Regions from separate parts of the Homo sapiens genome. Here region 2 is linked to region 1. The links come from fine-mapping of genetic effects on gene expression. Tissue or cell type: aorta. Region 1 holds a variant in brackets; the other region holds the start of a gene. All regions are shown on one strand. Distances are from middle to middle.

Region 1 (8,195 bases):
GTGAAGGGTAGATTAACCAAATGGAAGCAGAGTTCTATCAGAAAGGCAGAGGGGAATATATGGTATTAATGAAAGCATTGCTACACCTAGGTACCCCATACCTTGACATTACTCCCTTCCCCTACAACAAAAACCACATCCCTTACCTCTACCACTTCTAGATCTTTAGCACTTACCCCAACTGAATGACAGTCTCTTTTTAATGAGCCTGTTTTCCAGTCTATGCAGGCAGAAGAAATTCTCGTTAGGTGGGTCTTACTTGGGGAACATCACCACGTCTGTGAAGCTCACTGGGAACTCCTTCCTCAGTCAGGACCCCATCCTGTCCTGTGTCCCATATCACTGTCACACTTGCCATTGTCAGTCTCCTCTTTTAGTCAATTGTGTGTTTTTCATCTTCCCAAAACAAGACTGTGAGCTTCTATGGGACAGCCAATATGCCCAGTTCCTGTTCCAGTTCCCAGCATCTGGCTCTCTAGCTAGCACCCGATAGGTGCTCTGTATTTGTTTACTTGAAACCACCAGAGTTTTTTACACCAAGTGAGATCCAAGTACCCATCTAGCACACCCAACAAACAGTTTAAGGAAACATGAAATGTGTGCCTAGCTAGGTGGGAGGCTGTGCACTCCATTTGCCTTCTAGTTTCAAGCATGCGCAGAAAGAATCTGCATCCTTGACATGTTACTGAGCAGCACCATGGGTCACGTGGGCCACAGTGAGCATCCCCTGCAGCGTTTCCCCCAGTCCTCCCACTGGAAGAGGGCCAGAGTCATCCGACAGCAAATGTCCCAGAAACATATAGAGCATGCAGGAAAGGGGCCCATTCCTTAGCACTGACTTCATCTTTAAAACTAAGTATAAACCAGTTCCTGTTCACTCCTACTTAGTAAGAGCTGTCCTAACAGTATTCAGGATGCCCAGATCCTTTGCTTTAGAACTCCTCTCTCTTCTTGCACAGCCAGATGCATGTGAAGACAGCTCTCTTGCCTCCCTGTCTCTGCTTCTGCACTAAAGCCTGTAACACCTCCATGGTTCTCCACGTGACAGCAGGATCCTCTCAGTCTCCTGGCTGACCTCACTCATTCAAAAACGTTCTAGCTTGTCAACATTCTACAAATATAAGTGTTAAAGAAAACCAGAGCCAGACAGTAATTAGAGCCATAAAAGCAGATTTTACTCAGGAACTATTTCAATAGGAGAAATGAGCCCTCAGGACTCTTAGAACTCTTGAACCTTAGAACTGGACTCCATTCCAAATACAGCAAGGACAAGTGAGGATTTACAGCCCAGGAGTGGTCGTGGCGGGACGGTCAGTGAAAGGAAACATCAGGGGTAGGAGTGGATTCTGGCTAAACCTACTCAACATCTCACTGAAGGTAGGCCAGGATGATCAGATTCTGAGGGTGAAGGATAAAGAATTTGATCAGATACCAAGTATGAGGAATTCTCACTAAACTGACTTAGTAAGATTTCTGAAATTTTGTTTTTAATTGACAAACAATAATTGTATATATTTATAGGGTACAGTGTGGTGTTTTTATCTTTATTTATTTATTTTTTTTGAGACAGGATCTCGCTCTGTCACCCAGCTGCAGTGCAGCAGCACAATCTCAGCTCACTGCTGCCTCGATCTCTTGGGCCCCAGTGATCCTCCCACCTCAGTCACTCATGTAGCTGGGACCACAGGCGTGTGCCACCACAACCAGCATTTTTTTTTTTCCTTTGGAGAGATGGGGTCTTCCTATGTGGGTCAAGCTTGATGTTTTGATATATGTTTACATTGCAGAATGATTCCATCAAGCTAATTAACATATCCATCACCTCACATACTTAACATTTTTTGGGTTATGAAATTACTTAAAATCTACTCATTTAGCTTTTTTTTTTTTTTTTTGAGACAGTCTCACTATGTCACCCATGCTGGAGTGCAGTGGCATGATCATAGCTCACTCTAACTTCAGACTCCTGGGCTCAAGTGATCCTCTCACCTCAGCACCCTGAGTAGCTAGGACTACAGGCATGAGCCACCATACCTGGCTAACTTTTTTTTTTTTTTTTGGTAGAGCTGGGGGTCTTGCTATGTTGCCCAGGCTGGTCTCAAACTCCTGGCCTCAAGCAATCCTCCTGCCTTGGCCTTCTTGTAGCAATTTTGAAATACACAATACATTATTATTAACTATAGTCACTACTCTGTGTAATAGATCAGCAAAACTCATTTCTCTTATCTCACTGAAACTGCACACCCCTTGATCAATATCTCCCCATTCCTCAACCACCCACTCTTCCATCCTCTGGTGACCAATATTCTACTCTCTGCTTTTATGAGTTCAACTTTTCTAGGTTCCACATATAAACAGGGTCTTGCAGTATTTGTGTTTCTGTGACTGGCTTATTTCACTTAGCATAGTGTCTTCCAGGTTCATCCATGCTGTTGAAAACAACAGGATTGATTTCCTTCTCTCTTAAGCCTGAATAGTATATTCCATTGTGCATATATGCCACACTTTCCCTCCCTCCCTCCCTCCCTTCCTTCCTTCCTTTCTTCCTTCCTTCTCTTTCTTTCTTTCTCTTTCTTTCTTTTTGAGACAGAGTCTTGCTCTGTCGCCCAGGCTGGAGTGCTGTGGCCTCGGCTCACTGCAACCTCTGCCTCCTGGGTTCAAGCGATTCTCCTGCCTCAGCCTCCTGAGTATCTGATATTACAGGCACATGCCACCACACCTGGCTAATTTGTTATTTTTAGTAGAGATGGGGTTTCACCATGTGGCTCAAGCTGGTCTCAAACTCCTGACCTCGTGATCTGCCCACCTCAGCCTCCCAAAGTGCTGGGATTACAGGCATGAGCCACCACGCCCAGCCGCGCTTTTTTTTAACCATTCAAGGCAATATAGAGACAAACGCAAAAGCACAAATGTCCAGGCCTAGTTGAGAAGCAGGTTCAGAGGAGCCGGACTAAAGTTTGGTTCAAGAAGAGAGCATCTTTGTCAAAGGCAGCAGAACCAGATGCTTTAGGGATAATGTATAACCAAAACAGAAAAGAGGGAGACTTCCCTTTCCCTGGTTAGGTACTAAAGTAGCTCCAAATTGCATATTTCCAAAAAACTACCTAAATGGCTACTTATCTTGAGCTTTCCAGTTTGAAAAGAGCATGGAGTTTGAAGTCAGACAGATATGGGGTCAAATCCCAGCTCAGCCACTGATTAGCTCGTTGTGTGACCTTGTGCAGATCAAGTCCCCTCTCTGAGCTCCCGAGTCCTCATCTCTAAAATGGCAATCATGAAATTGATCTCACAGAGTTGCTATGAAGACTCAATTAAAAGAGAATGTCTACAAAGAACCAAGCATAAAATATGAGCTTCATCAAGAAGATTCACAACTCCTATTACCAGTAAAAAATGTAAAGCCCTAAGTAGTTTTCACACATAGGGCTCCTCTGCCCTGTACCAACAGCACGTATGGGGAGTGCAGGAGTCACAGAATGGCAGAGGTGGAACTGCTCTCAGGTATTAACTGAGCCCAGGGCTTCTCACCCCAGCTCAATCATCTAGGGTAGCTTCCGGATAACATCACCTCCCAGGTCCAACCATAGGCCAATTAAATCAGGATCTCTGGGGACAAAGTGCAGATGTCTGTGTTTTCCAAAATACAGGAATGAGTTCTGTTTGTTATGTAGATGGAGAGAGTATAGAAAGTTTTCATCCCCAGTGTTCCCTGGGTCCTTTCTCAGTCTCCTCTGGGTTCTGAGGTGCGGCACACTCCAAACCCTAACCTCAGGAAGCTCACAGTCTGGTTAGAAATTCCAGCACGCTCCTAAAA[A/C]TAGAACCAGTAGTCCCAGGCATGATGTTCATTCAGCAAACATCTGTGGTATGAAATTCAGCCCACATGGAAGCACTGAGGCCATGCACAGCCCTAGCTCGAGGCCATGCACAGCCCTAGCTCAAGGCCAGCAGGAGAAGGGACAAAAGCAAGATACCAGAATAAGATAAGATAGGTCTTTGGAATTGAAGCGTTTCCAAATGTGAAACTGACAGACACCCTAGAGGTCCTGGGCTCCAGATCCTTCATTTAAAGGGTACAAAAATTTGATTCCTAGAGGAAGTAACTGACATGCCCCATCTGCATAGCATGTTACTAGACAAAGTAGGACCTAGGGGGTCCTGAACTCTGCTCCAGAGACCTTCACTGAAACCCACTGCCCATGAACAACAAGAGCCAGCTGCTTTCATTCAGGGGTGTTGGAGGAAAGCACCATGAAGGAGGTGGGCAAGGACTGGGCTCTGGGGGAAGGACATAAGCAAAGGCATGGGTGCAGAACTCCCTTTGCACCTGGTTATCCAAGCGCCCTAATTCCTCACACCAGCCCTGTCAATTCTTCCACCCCGCCCTCCGCCACCTTCCCTGGCACAAGGCTCCTTCTTGCTGAAGTATTCACAGCTGGAGCCCTGGATTCTGGAGGGCACCTCAGCTGGGATTTCTACATTGCATTTTCAGGACTGTCCCACTGGGCCCCTCTGGGGGAAAGAGCAGGATGAGAGAAGACAGCCTCTGCACCAGAGAGGTCACCAAGCTAATTGGGCAGGTGCCCGGTGCCTCCCTTCCTTTCTGGAGCAGCTCTTCCAGGATCCTCTACAGAGACTCTTGTGGGGGTGGCATGAACAGCTCATTTGTTAGTAGCAGCAGCAACCAAGGCTGAGGGTGACATAGCATGGGATCTGAGACAGCGGAGGGAGGCAAAACGTGCCTTCCGTCACCACAGATACCCTCTGCCTGCTTATATCTGAGCCTGCCCTCCAGCCCCCACCCTGCTCCTTGGCTCCTCCTGAAGCCCCTTACCTGTCTCCATTTGTATCTATCCTTCCACTCGCAGGGGACCATGGGTCCTGGGCGTGCCATATGCCAGGTGCTGGAGATACAGAGAAAACAACAAGGTGGGATCCTTTGCCCTCCAGTAATCATGAATAAGTCAGAGAAAGAGATTTAATGAATATATATAAAAGACAAACAGCAGGCCAGGCCCTATGCTAAGCCCTTTTGTTTTTTTTTCAACTCACAGTGCTGAGAGGTAACGGGGTTTGTGCTGGACAGAATTCTAAGGTAGCCCCAAGATTCCCAGCTCCCGATGCACATGCTCTGTAAAATCTCCTCCCATTGGGTCCTCCCCAGCGGTCAGGCCCTGGGAACATGATGGGGAGTCACTTCCCTGACTGGGTTGTGTTATGTAAGACTCTGTCCTAGCAGGCTGGAGAGAGATTCTCCTGCTGGCTTTGCAGATGTGAGTAGCCGTGCTGGAAGAGGCCCACATGGCTAGGACTTGAGCATGGCCTCTAGGGGCTGAGATCAACCTCCAGCTGAGAGCCAGCAAGAATACAGGGACTCTGCCCCATAGACAAAAGGAACTGAATTCTGCCCACATCCCGAATGAGCTCAGAGGAGGACCCTATCCTCTAGATCACCATGGGGCCCCAGCCAACGCCTTGATGTTGCTTTGTGAGACCCTGAACGGGCAATCCAGCTCTGCTGTGCCCAGACTCTGAACTATAGAAACTGCGAAATAATAAAGGATTGTGAAACCACTGTGTTTGTGGCAATTTGTTATGCAGCAACAGAAAAATAATTCGGGGTGCTATTCAAAATATCCAAGAACTGGCAAGAAATGGGAACCAACCCATCAAAGAACACACAGGCAGTAAACAACTGTGGTGTGGGCAGAACATCAGTCTTGCAGGATGGTTTTGCCATTTTATAGATGTGAAAACTGACGTTCAGTGGAAATTGACTAGCCCGAGGCTTCATAGCTAATAGGAGGCAGAGGCAGATTCATTCCCAGGCCTTCTGGAAAGCAGTTCAGTGTAGCAGCTAAGAGGATAGGCTTTGGTAAAGCTGATGGAGGGCTTTGAATGCCACCCTTAGGGATGTGGACTTGATTTTCTAGGTAATGGCAAGGCACTAATAAAAGTCAGTAACATGCCAGGGTAGAATAGAATGATAAGATTGGCAGTGTGTGGAGGAAGACAGCTACGTGTGAGTTAGGAAAGAGTTCAGTCAGAGAAGCGGAACTGTTATGAGTGATACAGAATAAGGCATTTGACAAAAGGATTAGGCCTTATGCAATTGTAAGACCCGGTTAAGAAGACTATGTAGGGGAGGCTTCAGTGGGAGAATCACTTGAGGCCAGGAGTTCAAAACTACCCTGGGCAACATGGCAAGACCTCATCTCTAAAAACAAATGTAAAGAAGAGAAGTCTGGGCAAAACTGTGGTCCTTACTTCTGGTGTTGGGCCTGTAGGCATTACAGGTTGGCCAGGCTGGCAATCAGGAGGGAAATCAAGGTGTGAGGTGGAGGAGAGTAAGACAAACAGGGACCCAATAGGTGCCCTGCAACCCGAGAGGACAATTGTGGCTGAGCCCACAAGCTGCCCACTGGCTGGAGCCACAGCTGTCTTGAACTACATCCAACCTGGACGATACAAGAGACACTGGAGCACTTCACCACGGAGCTGCGCTCGCATCTGGCCCAGGACTAGGTGAAGTCTGAGTAGCAGGGCTGGAGGGAGCTGCAGGAGATATGGGCTTGGGTGCTGCCCATGTCAATGAGGCCAGGCAGCAGGACCGCAACAGCCATGACCAGTCACAGTGTTTGGCATCTTACGCTGGGCTTCAGAGCTTGAAAATTGCTGTTTCTTCATTTCACCTTCCGAATCTCATGTATATTCCTCTTTATAGCCAACCCTAAATGGAAGCATATTGGGAAGGCAACTGTGGGAAATGTAGCTCCCACTTAGCTAAGTTGACTCAGCCCCAATCAACTTCCATCTCAACAAAGAAAAAAGTCTGAAGCCAAGGGAATGACCTACCAGGGCTGGAATTTTGAAGTACAAAGTTTCTGTGGAAGGCCTTTTGTGGAGGATTTACAAAGACGTTGTGCCCCTTGGGATCTTGATCCCAAAACTGCCCACTCTTCACCCTGTCACATGCTGCCTCCTTACAGCCCCCCATCTCTGGCAGTGCCTAGAGTCCTTGGCTGTGGCCATAACGTTTCAGCAATCACAGTTTGCCATTCTGCTCGCAGATTTTAGAGTCTCCCTTGGCTGGTACCTTCCTCCCTTCTTCCACTCACACATTTTCTAAATGACCCCAAAAAGGTCACTCTGCAATCCTGATTGTCTAATCAGTGCTGGATCCCTCTGTAGTGTCCCCGATACATGCTCAGTTTGTTTGCCACCATTGATGGTGAACTCACTACCTGTTAAAGCTGCCTGCCTACTCCATTTTTGAATGGTGGAAATAGAAAGATATTGTTTATACTGAGGTGAAATACATCTCCCTGTAGCTGCCACCTATGGATCCAAATTTTACCATGAGGTGTAGTAAAAAAAGAAAAAAAAATCTAATTCCCCACATGTGGCAGTTAAAAAATTGGAATCAGAAAAACCTGAGCTCAGATGTTAGCCCTGCCACCCCTAGCTCTCTGAGTTAGCTCTGCCCATTCACTTCAGCATCCATTGGGGGATCCTGCCCATGGGAATTCATACTGTGGTAGAGTAACCGTGATTTTCCACTTCCCTGTGCTTCGATTTCCACATCTGTAAAATGGGGCCTTTGAGAATTTTTTTAAGCACATAATACACTTAGCACTATGCCTGGCACAAACTTAGAGCCCAGTAAGTACTAGCTTTTATTACTCAAACATAACAATGTCTCTAAGAACAGTCTTTCTAGGTTAAATATTTCCAGTTTATGTCATGGTCCTTAGCCCCCTCATCATTCCGGATTCCAAGTGCAGAGCATACACTCGGTGGGCCACAGTCTATCGAATGGGACTTGCCTTGCCTGCCCCATCCTAGCTGTACCAATTCCTGCCTCCCATCCGAGCAGTACCAATTTCCTGCAGGGCCTGACCCCAGTGACTGGAAGCCAGGAGTTCAAGACTAGCCTGGGCAACATGGCAAGACCTCATCTCTAAAAACAAATCTTTAAAGACTCAGAAGCTGGGAGCACCATGCAGCAGGAACTAGCTGTGCTGTTGCATCTAGTGGGAACAGGGAGGTGTCCGGGAAAGCTGAGAATAACTGTCCTGGGACTGAGCATGAGAGATGGCAGCAGCTGGTGCGGGTCTGGGTGGGGGCTCCAACCTGCACCTGCAGTAATGTGGACACATGCAGTAACGTGGACGTCTGCAGTAACGCAGATGCACGCC
Region 2 (8,167 bases), 82 kb before region 1:
ACAGAAATCACCCAGCCTCCCCCTCAAACTTGAATGTCCCCCTCAAGGCTTTCTTCTCTTTCCTCCAAGTGGAAGTGAAGTCTCAGTCCTGGGCGCTCTCCTCCCTAAGCCTGCCCACCACTCCTTGCAGTACTCACCTCTCTGCATGGAGACTCATCACCTCCACTCGATGAGGAGTTCAGGGATTTGTCTTCACCTCTCCCTTGGACTCCTCTGCCCCCCAACACCCCCTTCAACTACTAGGTGCTTGGTTGGACAAATTGCCACTCCTGCAAGGCTGTCCTTGTCCAAACCAGACTTCTTGGCTTCAGCTGGATTTCTTGAACTTAAAGTGGAAGTTCATCTTAACGTGAACTTAAAGTTGAAGGAGCTTGAGCTTGGCCAGGGGTTCCAAACTTACCTCCACCACCTCCTCCTAACCACGTGGGAAAGCAGATGGAGTCCCTTGAACCTGTTTCCACCACCACAGTAAACCATACAGCCCATATGCAGCCCAAGGACTGTGCTAAGGACTTTAACTGCATTTTCTCGTGGCATTCCCCTATGCCTGGTGACAGTTGGTACTTTTATCCTTATTGCCACCTTACAGAAGAGAAAGTGGAGGCTCAGGGAGGTTAATTGCCCTAAGTCACTTGGTCAAGGGATGACAGAGCAGTGACTCTGTGGGATTTCAAACCCGCTTATCCCCCAGGAAGTCCACAGACCCCTGGACATTCTGAGGCAGCAAGATAAGGGCCTCCCCCAGCCACCAGGCTCCCTCCTCCTGGGTCTCCCAGCCCTGGCTACCTTCCTTGGGCGCGTTGGCATCCCAGACGCTCCACATCTGCACGAAGAAGAAAGGCGTCCAGCACACGATGAAGGCCAGCACGATGATGAAAGTCATCTTGACCGTGCGGATCTTGGCCTTGGAGATGAGCTTGACGCTGCTGACACGCGCCAGGGCCACGCGCCCCCCATCGCCAGCCGCCGCGCCCTCTGGCGCCTCGGCCGCCGCCGCTGCAGCGGTCTTGAGCCGCAAGTTCTGCCAGATCTTGAAGCTGATAAGGCCGTAGCAGGCAGCGAGCACGATGACCGGCACGATGTAGACAGCTAGCGTGATCCATGTGATGTAGGCCTTGGGTCCCCAGGGCTGGATGAAGACGGCCCAGCAGTCGAAGACGCCGTCAGCCACCTCGCGCAGAGAGAAGATGTGCACCTGCGGCGCGCTGGCCACCAGGCAGCCGAGCCACGTGGCGAGCACTGCCAGGCGGTCGGTGCGGCGGCGCAGCGAGCGCAGCGGCTGGCAGATGGCCAGGCAGCGGTCCAGGGACATGAGCAGCAGCAGGTAGGTGGAGGCGAACATGCCCACCACCTGCAAGTACTTGACCAGGCGGCACAGCAGGTCGGGCCCGTAGAAGCGGAAGGTGATGTCCCACAGCAACTGCGGCAGCACCTGAAACACTGCCACCACCAGGTCGGCGATGCTTAGGTGCTTCATGAAGAAGAAGAGGCGCGAGTGCTTCTGGCGTGTGGTGCGCAGCGCCAGCAGCACACACGCGTTCCCGCTCAGCGCCAGGAGCAGGATGAGACACAGCACCGCCACCTCCACGCGCGCCAGGGCCTCGTTGCGCCGCGGGGGTCCGGCGGTGCGGTTGCCCTCGGCCCCCGGCGGCGCGGCGCTGGCGTTGGCTGCCTCGGCGCTCCAGTTGGCTGCGAGCGCGCCCTCCATGACCCTGGCGGCAGCGGTGCGCCCCGGCCTTCGAGCCCTTTACGGCTTGGCGCGGCTGGGCCGGATCCGGCGTGTCGGAGGGTGTAGGGGCGCCCGGGGCTCCACTCCTGGAGACTCCACGGACGGATCTGCTGGGTCCACCCTGAAACAAACCGGGAGGGCCGTGAGGAGACCGCCGCGTTTCTCTTCCGACGCGGGTAGGGCGTGCTTGTCCCATTCCCAGGAACCCAACTCATCTGAAACAACAGGGCACAACCGCCGGCCTCGGGTTGCTCAGCCGCCACCCCAGAAATCCCCGTTGGAGGTACCTCCTCTGAGCCACTGCAAATGAGCGGGAATCCTCTACCGGCCACAAGCCCAGAGCCCCCAGCGTGCCAGTTCCTCGGGATGTTCAGCGGCTTCCACTGGGGGAGAAGGGAGGGTCAAAATCAGCAACGTTCCTCCGGGAGTGGGAATCTAAAACCAAATCACCTCCCCGAGGGAATCTCCAAACTACCTACTCGCCCCAGGCTCCGACCCTCAGCATATCCACCTGCCGCGGGACCCCCAAACCAGCCCCTCTCCTAGTAAACATTAATTCAAGTACTTCCTCCGGAAATCCCCAAATAGCCACTTGCCTGGGAAACCCCAGCTCTGGTCCTTCCCCGTCTAACCCCCTTTTCTAAGACGGTCGGCCGTCACTCCCTGAACTTCCACAGCACCTGCTTCGGTGGAAACCCGGTTCTGCAGTCCCTGCTGGGGGAACCCCTGCCTCAAAGCCCAAGATGCCCAAGCGCTGTTCCCAGACCCTGGCATAGACACCTCCCGCGGGGCTCCTCCCCAGCCCGGCAGCCTCGAAAGTTCTGGAACCCCTGACTTGCGCTTTGGACCCAGATAATCAAGGACTCTGAGTCTCAATCCCGAGAAGTCACTTTACAATCTCTCGGAACACCCCGAGCTCCTCCAGGAACAAGGAGTGCGAGGCACCCCACCACCTCCACTCGGGTCCCGATGGCTCCACCGGCCCTAGCCATCCCGTCCACCCCTGCTTAGCACCCAGCTACCTGCACCGAGTCCGCAGGCGAACCTAAAGTTGACTCCCCCCGGGGAAGTTGCACGGCGACTGACGGCCCCAGTGACGCGTGCGCTCCCGGCCCGAGTTGGGATGGCCTGCCGGCTGCACCTAATGTGATGCTAAGCTGAGGTCTCTCACTGGAGCCTCGGTTGGAATCCCCTCGCCGCAGCCTGGCTGGTCGCTGGATGGGTACAGGAGGCGAGCGAGGAGCGCCTCCCAGGCTGCGCGCGCGGACAGCGTCTGGATGCGGCGCTGTGCGCTGGGGCTGAGGCTGCACTATCGCACGGGTCCGCTAGGGGGCGGGCGAGGCCAGCCGCGCAGACCCCTCCGGAGCGGAGCTGGTTCGCCCAGCGTTGGTCCCAGAGCCTTAACAAATGGGTTTATTTTGCAGTGGTTTAAAACTGCGAGAGGGAGGGAACTCGTCAATAACCCGCCCGTTTCTTCCTTTCTTGGTTTAGAAGCTCTTGACTCCGAGACACATAGGAGGCTTGAATAATAATGTTCTTCCCCGGGTAGATAGTGATGAAGTTACAAAAGCATTTAAACTGATTATTTCCCAAAAATGATGTTAATTTTCAGGCTTTTCTCTCCCCCCACACCTCCAGCTTGATGTAGCGGCTTTAGCAGTGAACTCAAATAAGTCTTTGCTTTGGAATACTTTTGTTCCTATTCCCGTTAATGAGGAATTAGAAATGGCCTCTATTCTAAGCAGTGCTGGGAGAGGCGTTATTTTTTCGGTAGTTTTAGAGGAAATTCTGAAGCACAACACTGTCTTCATTTAAAGTGATTCTGCTTGTCTGCGCCCAAGAGCCGTTTCTGCCTCCTTGTCGCGCTTCGGAATTAAAATTCTAAATGATGCCAAAGGAAGATAAAATGTTAAAGACAGCTTCTCAGCCTCCCTGCCCCTTCTCTATTCTAAAATCATTTTTTGAAGTAATTTACAGTGGCCAAGAATTAAGTCAGAAAAAAAGGCCAGGATTCAAAAATAAACAGGGCTCTTTAAAATGCATTAAATGTGTATTTCCTCCTGACATTTCACTTCTCCGTCTTTTTATTATGTGGAGAGACTTGAGTTAGCCAAGGACTGGGTTTCCTTAATCCACAATTACAGCCCCATGCCGAGATATCCCAGGGGCCAACCTTACAGCACCTGGATCCCAGGGTTCTAGCTGAGTAATCATTCCAGAATGGGGCTGGGAATCTTGACAGCATTGCCAAGGGGTGGCAGGCAGTATTAATCAATATTAGTCAATAGTACCTATCGGCCTCGAAAATTACAGATTAAAGTTACAGACGACTCAGGTGAGAATGAAGTGACCTTGGGCAAGCCCCTTCTCTTTGGGCCTCAGTCTCCTCATATGTAAAATGAGAGCACTGGTCAAGATAGCTAATGTCTGAGGTCCTGTCCCTCTGGTTTTCTGAAACTGTATAATCTGTGCAATCTGAGGGTTCAATCCTAGCAGGTAAAACACCCCTGCCTCACTCCACGGCTGGATGAAGGCAGATTTTTCCCTATGAGCCCCTGACCGGTGAATGTGAGAAGGAAAACACTGGCCTGTAGAACCAAGCCTGCCCTTCTTTCTCCTGGAAGACAGCTGCTTTCTAGGGAGCAAGTTTACTGAGCCACTTCACCAAGGACAGACTCTTCTACCCTTTGTAGGGAAGCCTGCCTACCTGTGTGGTCCTCGCGTAGCCCGTGAGACAGCCTAATTCTGGATTCACCTAACAGGGCTATTTAGTCTCATGCAAAAGGTAAATTCTCTAACTTAGTTTTAATCTAAACAACAACAATAACAACAACAGTAATAGTGTGATCCCCATTTCCTGTCTTTTGTTTTATTTCTCATTGTGTGCAGAAACCAGGCAGGAAATAGAGAGGTCCCCTTGAAAACTCCTAACAATGAATAAGACATGCTCCTTCACCTTTGAGCTTCGGCCAGGGAGAAAAACACATATTAGATTGGTGCAAAAGTAATTGTGGTTTTTGCTATTAAAAATAATGGCAAAAACTGCAATTACTTTTGCATCAACCTAATATTTGCAGTGTGACAACAATAAATGATGTTACAGAAGTGAGGACTGCTGGGGGCTGAGGTAATACTTGGGAGATCGTTTTACAAAGAGGTAGCTGGATTTCAGAGCTCCAGAATGAGTTCTCCAGGAAGCAAAGAAAAAAGGCATACTTCTCAGAGAGTGGTGCAGGGGAATCACTTTGGCGTTTTGGAGGAAGGACTAAAGATGAATTGCTTGGTGCCTAGCACATTGCCAGCACTTAATACATACAGTTGGCCCTCTATATCCCTGTATCTGTGAGTTCAGTGGATTCAAACAATCATGGATTGAAAATATTCAGGAAAAAAAATCCTCAAAGTTCCAAAAAGCAAAAATTGAATTTGTCATGTGCCACCTACAACACTGAATGCACACAAATGCAGTGACGAGTGACATTGCATTAGGTGTTACAAGTAATCTTGAGATGACTTAAAGTATGTGAGAGGATATGCACGTGTTATATGCAAATACTGCTTCATTTTATATCAGGGATTTGTGTACCTTGAAGGCTCCCGGAACCAATCCCCCATGGATACCAAGAGATAACTGTACTTATTGATGCTAAAGGAACTTCAAGGCCATGTAAAGGAGAATGGGTTTTATTCTGTAACCCAACATTCCCCAAAATATGGGATGGAATACTTTCTGATAGTGTTAAATGTGAATTTAATATTGAGTGATACTGAATAACAGGGAGGAAATTCAGTTCTCAGTTCTGCTTACTTTTGACGTCAGCAAAGAGAAAGTCTGATATAACAAAAATCATGAAGGTGCTAGTGTAAAGATGACTGAGGTTAGAAGGCATTGGTGGGGAAGGTGGGGTGCCTGGAAGGACTGCAAGCAAAACAACGTACTCAAATCTGTGCTTGGTGAGAGAATGCTGGTAGCCACAGGGAAGATGGGAAAGGAGATACTGGCATTATGAAGGCCTTGGAGATCCAGGCAAGAGATGCTGTAGGCATGGACAAAAGATGTGACATTACAGGGTGTCTTTCGGTCTTCCAAAGAAACAGAACCATTGGGATGTATATATGTAGAGAAAGAGATTCATTTAAGGAATTGGTTCATGTGTTATGGAGGCTGGCAAGTCCAAAATCTTCAGAGTGAGCTGACAGGCTGGAGACCCAGGGAAGAGCTGATTTTGCAGGTCAAGTCCAAAGGTCCTCTGCTGCGGAATTCCTTCTTGCTCAGGGAGGTCAGTCTTTTGTTCCATATAGACCTTCAACTGATTGGATAAGCCCACCAACGTTATGGTGGGTGATCTACTTTGTTCCAGATGTTAATCTCATCCAAAAATACCCTCACAGAAACATCCCGAATAATATTTGACCAAATATCTGGGCACCATGGCCCAGCCAAGCTGACACACAAAATGAACCATCACAGACAGAGATTCAGCAATCCCTGATTTACAAATGTCTTCATCTGTCTGAGTATCCGGGCATCTTTTTTTTTTTTTTATTTTAAGTTCTGGAGTTCATGTGCAGTATGTGCAGGTTTGTTACATAGGTAAATGTGTGCCATGGTGGTTTGCTGCACCTATCAACCCATCACCTAGGTATTAAGCTTAGCACATATTAGCTATTTTTCCTGATGCTCTCCCTCCCTCTGCCCCCGTGACAGGCCCCAGTGTGTATTGTTCCCCTCCCTGTGTCTGTGTTCTCATCATTCAGCTCCCACTTATAAGTCAGAACATGTGGTGTTTGGTTTTCTGTTCCTGTATTAGTTTGCTGAGGTTAATGGCTTCCAGCTCCATCCATCCTGCAAAGGACATGATCTTGTTCCTTTTTATGGCTGCATAGTATTCCATGGCATATATATCTATATATATCTATATATATATATATCTATATATATCTATATATATATAATCTATATATATCTATATATATATAATCTATATATATCTATATATATATAATCTATATATATCTATATCTATATAATCTATATATATCTATATAATCTATATATATATAATCTATATATATCTATATCTATATAATCTATATATATCTATATATAGATTATATAGATATAGATATATATATATATATCTCACATTTTTTTCTTTATCCAGTCTATCATTGATGGGCATTTGGGTTGATTTCATGTCTTTGCTATAGTGAATAGTGCTGCAGTGAACATACATGTGCAGGTATCTTTACAATAGAATGATTTATATTCCTTTGGGTATATACCCAGTAATGAGATTGCTGGGTAAAATGGTCTTTCTGGTTCTAGGTCTTTGAGGAATTGCCACTCCATCTTCCACAATGGTTGAACTAATTTGCATTACCACCAATAGTGTAAAAACATTCCTATTTCTCCAGATCCTTTACAGCATCAGTTGTTTCTTGACTTCTTAATAATCACCATTCTGACTGGCATGAGATGGTATCTTATTGTGGTTTTTATTTGCATTTCTCTAATGATCAGTGATGTTGACCTTTCTTTCATACGTTTGTTGGCCACATAAATGTCTTCTTTTGAGAAGTGTCTGTTCACGTCCTTTGCCCACTTTTTAATGGGGTTGTTTTTTTCTTGTATCCAAGCATCTTAAAGGTGGGGCCAATATTGTCTATACCTGTACTTCGAAAGGCCTAGGTCACTATAGAATAGGCACCTTTCAGGTATTTGTTAAATACAGAAGGATAAAAGGAAGGGGGAAAGGAGGGAAGAAATAAACATCTCCATGGGCAGAACCAGGCCCTCTGGGGAAGGTATCCTGCCCAGAGAATGACCTGTCCTGTACCCACTTCTGCCTCTGGGAACTGGGTCTGAGTTTTAGCATCTTGGGAATTTTCCAGCCCTGGCACATTTATTTCAACATGGATCCAAGCCCAAGCGGCCTTTGCTCTATTGTCAGAGTGGAAATGAGCTATAAACACATCCAACCTACCCCCTCCCTAACATCACCGCCTCCCCAGCCTGCCCCCAAATAACTTCTCAGCCTCTGCTTGGGCTCCTAGCTCCAGGAGGGGGGTCAGTGACATGCTCTCAGGCATAAAGGCTGAGAACACATTGTAGCAATCAGCCTGCTGCTGGCACACTTGATCTTCTTACATTTATAGCTCTGTGCGGATGCAGGCACATCAGGGCACATGGGCTGACCTGGGAAGTTCCTGAGGCCGTGCCAGGATGCTGTGTCAGGAGGCCACTGCTTATAGGTAGAACTTGCACGGATTCCTTCTAGCCTGTGTGATTTTGGACTTCCCAGCCTTTGTTTTCATTCCTGTGTTCCATGCAGGGTGGAGAAAGAGAGAAAAATGTGCTTTCCTATTGGAGAGAGCTCTGAATCTGCAGCAGTAAGTGCTTGCTAGCATCTGGATTTTACCACGTTTTGTCAGCGT

What was found. PIP is the estimated chance that this variant, and not a neighbour inherited with it, causes the effect.
Region 2: OXTR starts here. The variant in region 1 is fine-mapped to the expression of OXTR in aorta (GTEx, PIP above 0.99). The same link has a PIP of 0.9 or more in fibroblasts and tibial artery.

Annotation. Positions count from the first base shown.
Region 1 is chr3:8,848,048-8,856,242 of GRCh38, forward strand. LOC107984112 (a long non-coding RNA gene) reads right to left here. Exons shown (of 2, transcript XR_007095814.1): 1 at 4,832-8,195. Among named protein-coding and RNA genes, the nearest start is that of OXTR, 83 kb to the left of the region's middle. The variant A/C (reference allele first, on the strand shown) is at 3,815.
Region 2 is chr3:8,766,480-8,774,646 of GRCh38, forward strand. It overlaps OXTR (oxytocin receptor), which reads right to left and starts at 3,134. Exons shown (of 4, transcript NM_000916.4): 1 at 2,752-3,134; 2 at 2,017-2,112; 3 at 787-1,850. The coding sequence starts at 1,708. RefSeq lists enhancers at 586-1,257, 1,930-2,601, 3,249-3,298 and a silencer at 1,579-1,638.